Linked DNA regions of Homo sapiens: regions 2 and 3 are each linked to region 1. Evidence: fine-mapped expression QTL. A gene starts in region 1. Each other region holds a variant in brackets. All regions are shown on one strand. Distances are from middle to middle.

What was found. PIP is the estimated chance that this variant, and not a neighbour inherited with it, causes the effect.
Region 2: its variant is the best candidate, but not a certain one, in a credible set for the expression of IL21R in whole blood (INTERVAL, PIP 0.70).
Region 3: its variant is the best candidate, but not a certain one, in a credible set for the expression of IL21R in CD4 T cells (CEDAR, PIP 0.55).

Annotation. Positions count from the first base shown.
Region 1 is chr16:27,400,589-27,403,306 of GRCh38, reverse strand. It overlaps IL21R (interleukin 21 receptor), which reads right to left and starts at 1,133. Exons shown (of 9, transcript NM_181078.3): 1 at 689-1,133. RefSeq lists enhancers at 502-621, 514-1,056.
Region 2 is chr16:27,448,482-27,451,258 of GRCh38, reverse strand. It overlaps IL21R (interleukin 21 receptor), which reads right to left. Exons shown (of 9, transcript NM_181078.3): 9 at 1-2,725. The coding sequence ends at 1,976. IL21R-AS1 (IL21R antisense RNA 1) reads left to right here. Exons shown (of 3, transcript NR_037158.1): 3 at 1,453-2,777. Among named protein-coding and RNA genes, the nearest start is that of IL21R-AS1, 3.5 kb to the left of the region's middle. RefSeq lists enhancers at 494-643, 984-1,033, 1,054-1,213, 874-1,751, 2,014-2,253 and 1 more. The variant C/T (reference allele first, on the strand shown) is at 1,683.
Region 3 is chr16:27,439,071-27,441,847 of GRCh38, reverse strand. All of the region lies in intron 4 of IL21R (interleukin 21 receptor), which reads right to left. Among named protein-coding and RNA genes, the nearest start is that of IL21R-AS1, 13 kb to the left of the region's middle. RefSeq lists an enhancer at 2,455-2,777. The variant T/C (reference allele first, on the strand shown) is at 1,562.

The DNA.
Region 1 (2,718 bases):
CTTTCCCATCCTTCAAGGCTCAGCCTCCACTGACCTCCCCACCCTCCTCTCCTCCACATGCACAGGGAACTGGGTTGGCCTCTTACCATCCGACCCGTTCCCCGTGCTTCATGAGAAAGATGCAGCGACAGCTCATGGGGTCACCTGGCTTGACTGCCCGACCTGCTACGTCCCAGTTGAGTCACCGAGGGAAAATCACTCTACCTCTCGCAGCCTCATTGCCTCATCTGCGAAATGGGCACACCAGCCATTGTTTTGAATGACTGGGTGGAATCAAGGTGGTAAGACATAGAAACTGACACAGAATGGGTCCCATCAGGCTCTACACCCATGCCCGTCACCTCCCGACTCAGCCGCCCAGAATCGGGTGATTGACATGTTATGTTTGGCTTGAAACTGGCTTTCCTTCCCCAGCCCGCTACATTTTGGAGGCTGGTTTTCAAGATAGAGGGTCGTCTCAGCCACATCCCTGCTGCTGGGCCCCTAAGCTGTGCTGAACAAGAGACCCCAACCTCATTTCTGCCCAGCCTCACTGCATGAATCTTCTTTGCCTCAGTGTCCCCAATTGTGACTTGGGCACAGTCCTCCGAGCCCTCCCACTGTGACACTAGATGCAGCAGGCAGGGAACAGTCCCTCCTGGGCAGAGAAGGCACCCTGGTCCCAGCAGAAAACCAGGGCTGGAATTACCTTCTGTTTCGGCTTCTTTCTCAGAAATCCATTCCGTGTGCTGGGGGCAGTCTGATGGGCTTCTGGGGGTGGCAGCTGGGTTCAGCGTGGGGGTGACAGATGAGGGTCTGAGAAAGCAGGCAGAGGCCTGGGGTGAGAATCCACACCCAGCCCGAGTCACCAATCAGGCTGTCATAAGACCTGTCACTCTGATGACGGGCAGCTGGGCCTCCAGGCAGGTGTCCCACAGAGCAGCAGACAGAGGAAAGAGACGGCAAGGAAGGTACCAGGCGGCCGCAGCAGGGATGCACGGGCCGCAGACAGACAGACACAGCTGCGTGGCTGTCAGCCACACTCAGGGAGAGGCAGGCAGAGGGCCAGACGCCGAGCTTACGGTCACTCAGCAGAGAGACGCCAGTGGGTCTGTCTGAGGCCGCTGGCTGCCACCCAGCCGCATGTGCAGAGTGGGGAGGAAGAGGAGGATGTGGTGAGCCGCTCCCCGCCAGCCCCGCCCACCCGCAGCTGGGCTCCTCCTGGGAGGGAGTGAGAAAGAGGTGGGAGGGGGCCTGGCCCCACAGCAGGCACCCACTGTCACCAAAGGTCACCTGCAAGTAAGACATTTGGGGCCATCGGGGTGACACTTCCCTCTTAGGGACCTGTGACATCATCCCCACAGGCCTCTCAGTCATAACCCATGAGGCAGGCAGTGCCTCCTGGAGCCACCACATTGCACAGATATGGAAACTGAGGCCAGAGGTGTGAAGATGTGGCACAGTTTCACCCGTGGACCCAGAGTCCTCAGTGGCCGACTCCAGCCCCTCAGCACAGAGAGAAGGACCAGAACCTTGCCCAAGGTCCCACGGAAGCCCCTTTTTCAGACTTTGCAAACCAGCCTGTTTCTTATTCCTGAGCCTTACCTGCCTAATAGGGTCTGAGCTTGGGACCCTCTGCTCTGGCTTGACCCCCATGCCTCTCTGCCTCCATTTCCTTTGGATCCAGTCTCCTGCTGCAGAGCTCCAGGGAGCAGGACCCCTTGGGCACGTCACATCACCTCTCTGAATGCCTCACTTTGCCCATCTGTCAAATGGGGGCACCTAGCTATGAGGAAGAGGGCAGACATTAACACATGAGAATTCAAGAAGAAAATAGAGAAAAGAAATTCTCAAGAGAGTTTTCATCTTGCTAACATGCCAGAGGCCCATGAGAGGGTCAGATGTTTCTGGAAGACATTCAAGAAACCAGGAGACAAAATGTAACAAGCTTAATGCCTAGTGCAGTCTCCAAAGGAGAGCAAGAGAATTGCTACCACCACCACCGCTACCACCACCACCACTACCACTGCCATCACCACCACCTCGAATTACTTTGGTGCCTACATGATCTCACTTTATCCCACAAAGTGTGAGGCAGACAAGATTAGTCCCATTTTACAGATGGAGAGACTGAGGCCCAGAGGAGTGAAACGTCACACAAGCCAAGAAGAATTAGAGCTGGGATTTGAACCTGGGTGTGTTTGATTCCTAAGCTTATACCAGGCTGTGAAAACGGGGCCATACCAGGATGAAATGTCCCACAGTTGGGGGAGGCTATTTTATGCTGTTTTGATAACAAGATGCAATTTGTAGCTCTCCCTGCTGACTCATTTTTGGGAATCAACTTGCTGTTGACTTTCGTGACCACTCCAGAGAAAAAAGAGAAAGCGTCTTGCTATTCTTTCTTTCTTTTTTTTTCTAGCTGTTTTTGAGGAACTTGGTACAAATTCCCCTGTGGTTGATTTGAGGGATCCTGGCCCTGTAGAGCTCTTCCCAGCTACCGAAGTGTGTCGTGTTCTCTGGAGAACGAACCTTGGGAAGACACCAGCTTTTGTTTTTCTTTCTCTTGATCTTCGGGGTGAATTCTCTGATAACATGCACTGAAATTTGTAGTGGTTGAAAGATCAGGAGAAGAGACAGTAAAAAGAGCTAATATTTGCTGAAAGCTCATTGTGTGCCAGGGTTTTAAGGACTTTAAAGATGCACCCTCTCATTTAAACCTCAGAAATACTCGAGAAG
Region 2 (2,777 bases), 48 kb before region 1:
TGCTTTCCTGGGAGCCTGTGGCTCAGGTGGCACCCACAGGTGGCTCCTGGAACCTGTTGCCCCCAAGAAGGTGTGAAAACCACAGCACATCTGGACCCAAGAGTCCCTAGGGTGCAGGTGCACGGGGTGTTGAGGGCTGCGCCTGCTCCGTGCAGAAGCTGTGTTTCCACTCTTGTGCTCCCATCCAAGTCTCACACCCCCCGATCCCAGGCTCACAGTCCCACTCTTATAACCATCAGTGTTCTAGAACCTTCCAGCCTCCTGCCAGGCACCGAGGACTCTCATGCATTCTCTCAGCTACCTCTCCCAACCACCCCACTTCACAGATGAGTCACGAAGGAACCTTCCGCAGGACTGACCTGTGCTGACTTCCAACCCGACCCTGTTGCAAAAGCATGGGTGAGCTAGAGCTGGCTCCTCCAGCACAGCCCTGCAGCCTGCAGTCTGACCTTTGGGGAGGAAGACGGGGCCGGGCCAGGGTGGCCCCAGCTCTACTAAAAATACAAAAATTAGCCAGGCGTGGTGGTGTGTGCCTGTAATTCCAGCTACTCTGGGGCTGACGCAGGAAATCGCTTGAACCCGGGAGACAGAGGTTGCAGAGAGCCGAGATCGCACCACTGCATTCCAGCCTGGGCGACGAGAGTGAGACTCTGTCTCAAAAGAAAAAAAAAAAAAAGAAAAAGAAAATGTTGCTAAGAAATATTTTCTTAGCTTCTTAATTCACATTTCAACAGGTTCTCTGACAAATCATTGACAAACAACTTGACCTCCCTTCAATTCTCCAGGATGAACAAATAAGACAGGATTTATTGGCAGGATTGAATTGGGGCAGGGTAGGGGGCCCAGCAGGATGTGTGGCCGGAGCACACTGCATAGTTCCAACCTGCAGCCCCCTCCATGAGTGCCACGGGGGGTGGGTCCCATGAGCCATGGCCTGCTACGTAATTGGTGTTTAATAAATATCTCTTGGGTGCATAAAGGGAATTTTTAAAAACTTAGTAGCAGAAGTTAGAAAAAGAAATCTTGGTTGGTGGGGAGCTGTTTCCAAGAGACGAAACGGACTGATTTTAAGCCTGGAAACCCCCCCGAGTGGCCCTCTGCAGGCGGGACGGCCCCGCGGGTGCCCAGGCTGTCGCTGACGATTGATGTTCTCACCCCCGCCCGCCTCGGCTCTGGCCGCAGAAGGAAGGAAGCTGACGTTTATTGAGGGTCTGCTCTGGGCTGCGTACCGTACACGGGTGACATCGCCAATTTCCCCCAGGTGTGTCATGCCTTCCCCACTGTCTGGATAAGGAAACTCTAGCCCAGAGAGGGGAGGCGACTTGGCTCAGGTAGCACAGCCAGAAGGTATCAGAGTCGGGATTCAGACCTTCGTCCAGGGGCCGCCCAAAAAATTGCCATTCCCGAGGTCACCATGGGCTCACTCCATCCCCTTTCGCTTCCTGTTGGCAGGTGATAAGGAACAATATGGACTTCTTGCAGCTCCTGGAGGCAGACGCTGGAGGGCTGGGCTCCGCCTCAGTCACAGGCAATGCCCTGATCCCACAAAGCCCCGGAGATGCTGTGGACCAACTTGCAACACAAGACCCTAGGAGGGAGGACGGCTGTTGTCATCTGTTGACCACAAACACGTTTACTGTGCACACTTGTGCACATGGGTGAGCTCCGTGAGTCCAGACATG[C/T]ACAGGGCAGGTGAATGCATGGAGTACCATGGGCATTATCCCAGGCCCACAGGCACGTGCAATCACACACACACGTGGACATGCCACTGCGCACCTAAGACACACACACACACACACATGCATATGCACACACACACATATGCACACACACACACAGACACTGTAAACATCAGGCTCAAAGGCCCATCCAGGAGACCAAAGGCTGCAGGTGTCTTCACATCACAGCCCAGGTGACCTTGTCTCTGGCTCAGGGCCCAGTGGCCTGGCCAGCTCTGGACATCCAGTCAGCCTCATTAGCTGGCCTGGGGTCCAGGGCTCGAAAGTGGCGGAGGAATGACCACCCACTGGCGGAGGTAGCTCCGGGGGGGTCCTTCGTCCCCGGGGCTGGTGAAGTCACACTCCACAGGGCTGCTGCAGTCAGAGCCCACAAAGCCACTGTCAAACGTGTCCATATCCAGGCCGGCCAGGGGTGAGCCCGCCTCACTCTCTGAGACCCCTCCAGGTGACCGGCCACCCCAGGGCAGTCCCCCAGCCCAGTCCTCCCCATCTGCAAGGGGTGGCTTTAGTCTGTCCAGGAGGCTTCCCAGGGGCCCTCCTAGCCCAGGGCTGCCAGCTGAGACACAGCCACAGGACAGGACTGTGGTCCCTGCATCCAAGAGTGGGTCCTCTAGGCCTGGGCTGGGCTCCAGGCCAGCATCCAGGTCCAGGGCTGGGTAGCCGTCATCCTCACAGCTGCAGGGCCAGGTGCATGGCCCCTCTGCATCTAGCACAGTCACTGTGTCAATGGACACCAGGCCGTATGGCCGATCCCTCTCCTCACTGTAAGCTGAGCCCCCCGAGTTCTGGGCTGTCGGCCAGAAGCTGGGCTTGGGCACACCGTCAGACTCCACCAGCTCTGCTGGTTCTTGTAGCTCCGTGAGCTGCAGCCTCTTGGCCGGGCTCCGTGGTGGGTGGCAGCTGTACACCTCCAGGGTGGAGGGCACCTCTGGGCTCCAGGGTCCCAGCTCCAGGCTGGAGCCAGTGAAGGGTGCACCCACCCATTTCTGTGAGAGAGAAAAAGAGAGAGTCATAGCACAGGATGAGGGTAAGGTGAGG
Region 3 (2,777 bases), 39 kb before region 1:
TGTAGAAATGGGGTCTCACTATCTTTGCCCAGGCTGGTCTCAAACTCCTGGCCTCAAGTGATGCTCCCACCTCAGCCTCCCAAAATCCTGGGATTGCAAGAACAAGCCACTGCACCTGGCCTATATTAAGTTTTAAAGTTAGCAACCCATCCAAAAATGTTCTCAGCAACGTGCTGGCAAATCCATTCATTTTCCATTTCTGTTCTAAATGATGGTATCATTTTCTTTCAACCCCAGCTACTTCAAGCAGTTGATGACTCTTCTTAGCATGAATGCTAATGGTGAGGGCTGCCATTTACACAGAGCCTGCCTGGCTGCCCTGCTCTGGGCAGTTTGACACCCCACAGTGGCCCTGGGAGGCCAATCTGATGGTCCTCATCTTTCAGCGTCTCCTGGCAAGTGCAAGAGCCGAGCTCTGAGCCATAACAGCAAGCTTTCATGGGCGGCCTCCAGGTGAAGGTCAAAGCCGGCATTCTGTTTTTGCTCCATTCGAAGGACATTTCATGAACTTGAGCAGAACACAATATGTTAAGGGCCTTAAATTCCTCTCTTGTAAAATGGGCTCAGTTCCTATATCATGGGGCTTCAAGTTCAAAGGGATGAAGCTATTTAGCAGAAGGCAGTAACTTCAGAGGAACTGAGTGACAAGTGTCTATTAGTGTCAGAGAGGAGTTGCAGGCCTCTGCCCTCACCTTCTCCACTTTTTCTTTTTTTGTTCTCCTTCCTTCCTTCCTTTCTCCCTCCTTCCCTCCCTCCCTCCCTTTCTTTTTTCTCTTCTTTCTTTTTTTTTTTTTTTTTTTTGAGACAGAATCTCTGTCACCCAGGCTGGAGTGCAGTGGCGTGATCTCAGCTCACTGCAGTCTCCACCTCCCAAGCCCAAGCGATTACACGGCCTCAGCCTCCCAAGTAGCTGGGACCATAGGTGCGCACCACCATGACTGGCTAATTTTTGTATTTTTAGTAGAGAAGTAGTTTCCCCATGTTGGCCAGACTGGTCTTGATCTTCTGACCTCAAGTGATCCACCCACCTCAACCTCCCAAAGTGCTGGGACTACAGGTGTGAGCCACCACACCCAGCCACCTTCTTCACTTTCAATCTGCCACCATCTAACACTCTGCACCTCTCACCCTGTGATTTTGTTTACTATGTGCCTCCCTCACTGGGCTCTTAGCTCCTTGGGGCAGAGGTTTTGTCCTCCAGGTTCAGTCTGTGCCCACAGCTCCTAGAACACAGCCTGGGGCACAGTAGGCCCTCAATAAATATTTGGCAAATTAGGCTGGGCAAGGTGGCTCATGCCAAAAATCTCAGCACTTTGGGAGGCTGAGGTGGGAGGATTGCTTGAGGCCAGGTGTTCAAGACCAGCCTGGACAACACAGCAAGATCCCAGCTCTACAAAAAATTTAAAAATTAGCCAGGATGGTGATGTGCACCTGTAGTCCCAACCACTCAGGAGGCCGAAGTGGGAGGATCGCTTGAGCCCAGGAGTTCCAGGCTGCAATGAGCTATGGTTGTGCCACTGCACCCCAGGCTGGAGGACAAAGCTACACCCTGGCGCGCGCT[T/C]GCTCGCTCTCTCTCTCTCTCTCTCTCTCTCTCTCTCTATATATATATATATATATATATATATTTGTCAGATTAACTAATGAACCTTGCAAGGCCTCCAGAAAGGAGCTCTAAGGCTGCCTGTGATCCTGAAACCCGCACTGAGGGCTCCCACCACGCCCCGAGGTGACAGAGGTGCACATTTTACAGAATGCCATGGTGAACACTGGGTTGTTGCTGTTGCTGTTCCAGTAATGGGATGTTTTTGACTGAAATCGTTTCTAACCCCTCTTTTGTCTTCCCCGGGGCAGGTGGAGGCCGGCTCTCGGCTTCCCTGTGTGGCTGGGTGAGGATGAGTCCCAGAAGACACCAGGGTACTGAGAACTGCCCCGTGGGTACTCGGGAGATGTTTGCAGAGCCTGGGGGTCGTGAAGAGGGGCTGCTCAGCCCAGCGAGGCCCAGGGCCCAGGAGGAGGAAGGGACCCTCGGCGGGAGGTGGTTAGAAAATCACTTCCTGCCCCAGCTGGGACCAGGCTAGCTGCAGATCCTGGCAGGGAGGGAGGGAATGCCAGAGAGAAATGCTTGGATTCACGCTGCAAGACAAGTGGCAAGGAGGGTCCCCTTGTGAGTCTGTGCATGTGTGAGTGTGTGCATGTGTGCCCGTGAGTAATGTGTGTGTCTGTGCATGAGTGTACACGTGTGTGAGAATGCATGTGTGAGTGTGTGCATATGTGTGCCCGTGTGTGATGTGAGAGTGTATGAGTATGTGTATATGTGCGTGTGTGCACACGTGTGAGAAAGTGTATATGTGTGTGCATGTGTGAGTCTACACGTGTGTGAGAATGCATGTGTGAGTGTGTGCGTGTGTGTGCCCATGTATGAGTGATGTGAGAGTATATGTGTGAGTGTGTGTGTATTGTGTACGTGTGTGTGTGTGTGTGTGTGTATGTATGTGTGAGTGTGTATGAGAGTGAGAGAGAGCAAGAGAGAGAGGCAGTGTGGGCCTCTGTGTCCATGCCATGCAGGCTGGGGCTGGGGAGACATCTGTGAGTTTGAGGGCGCATCTATGAGTCTGTGTGTGCGTGAGTCTGTGACCCTGGGAATTTGCGTGAGTGTGCATGTGTCTGGGAGTGTGTGAAGCTTCACTCTCACGCTCTGTGGTGTGACATCCACTCAGCAAAGAGGTGCAAACCTGGACCCCCAGAGTGTGAATCACAGACACCTCTTATACCCCAGC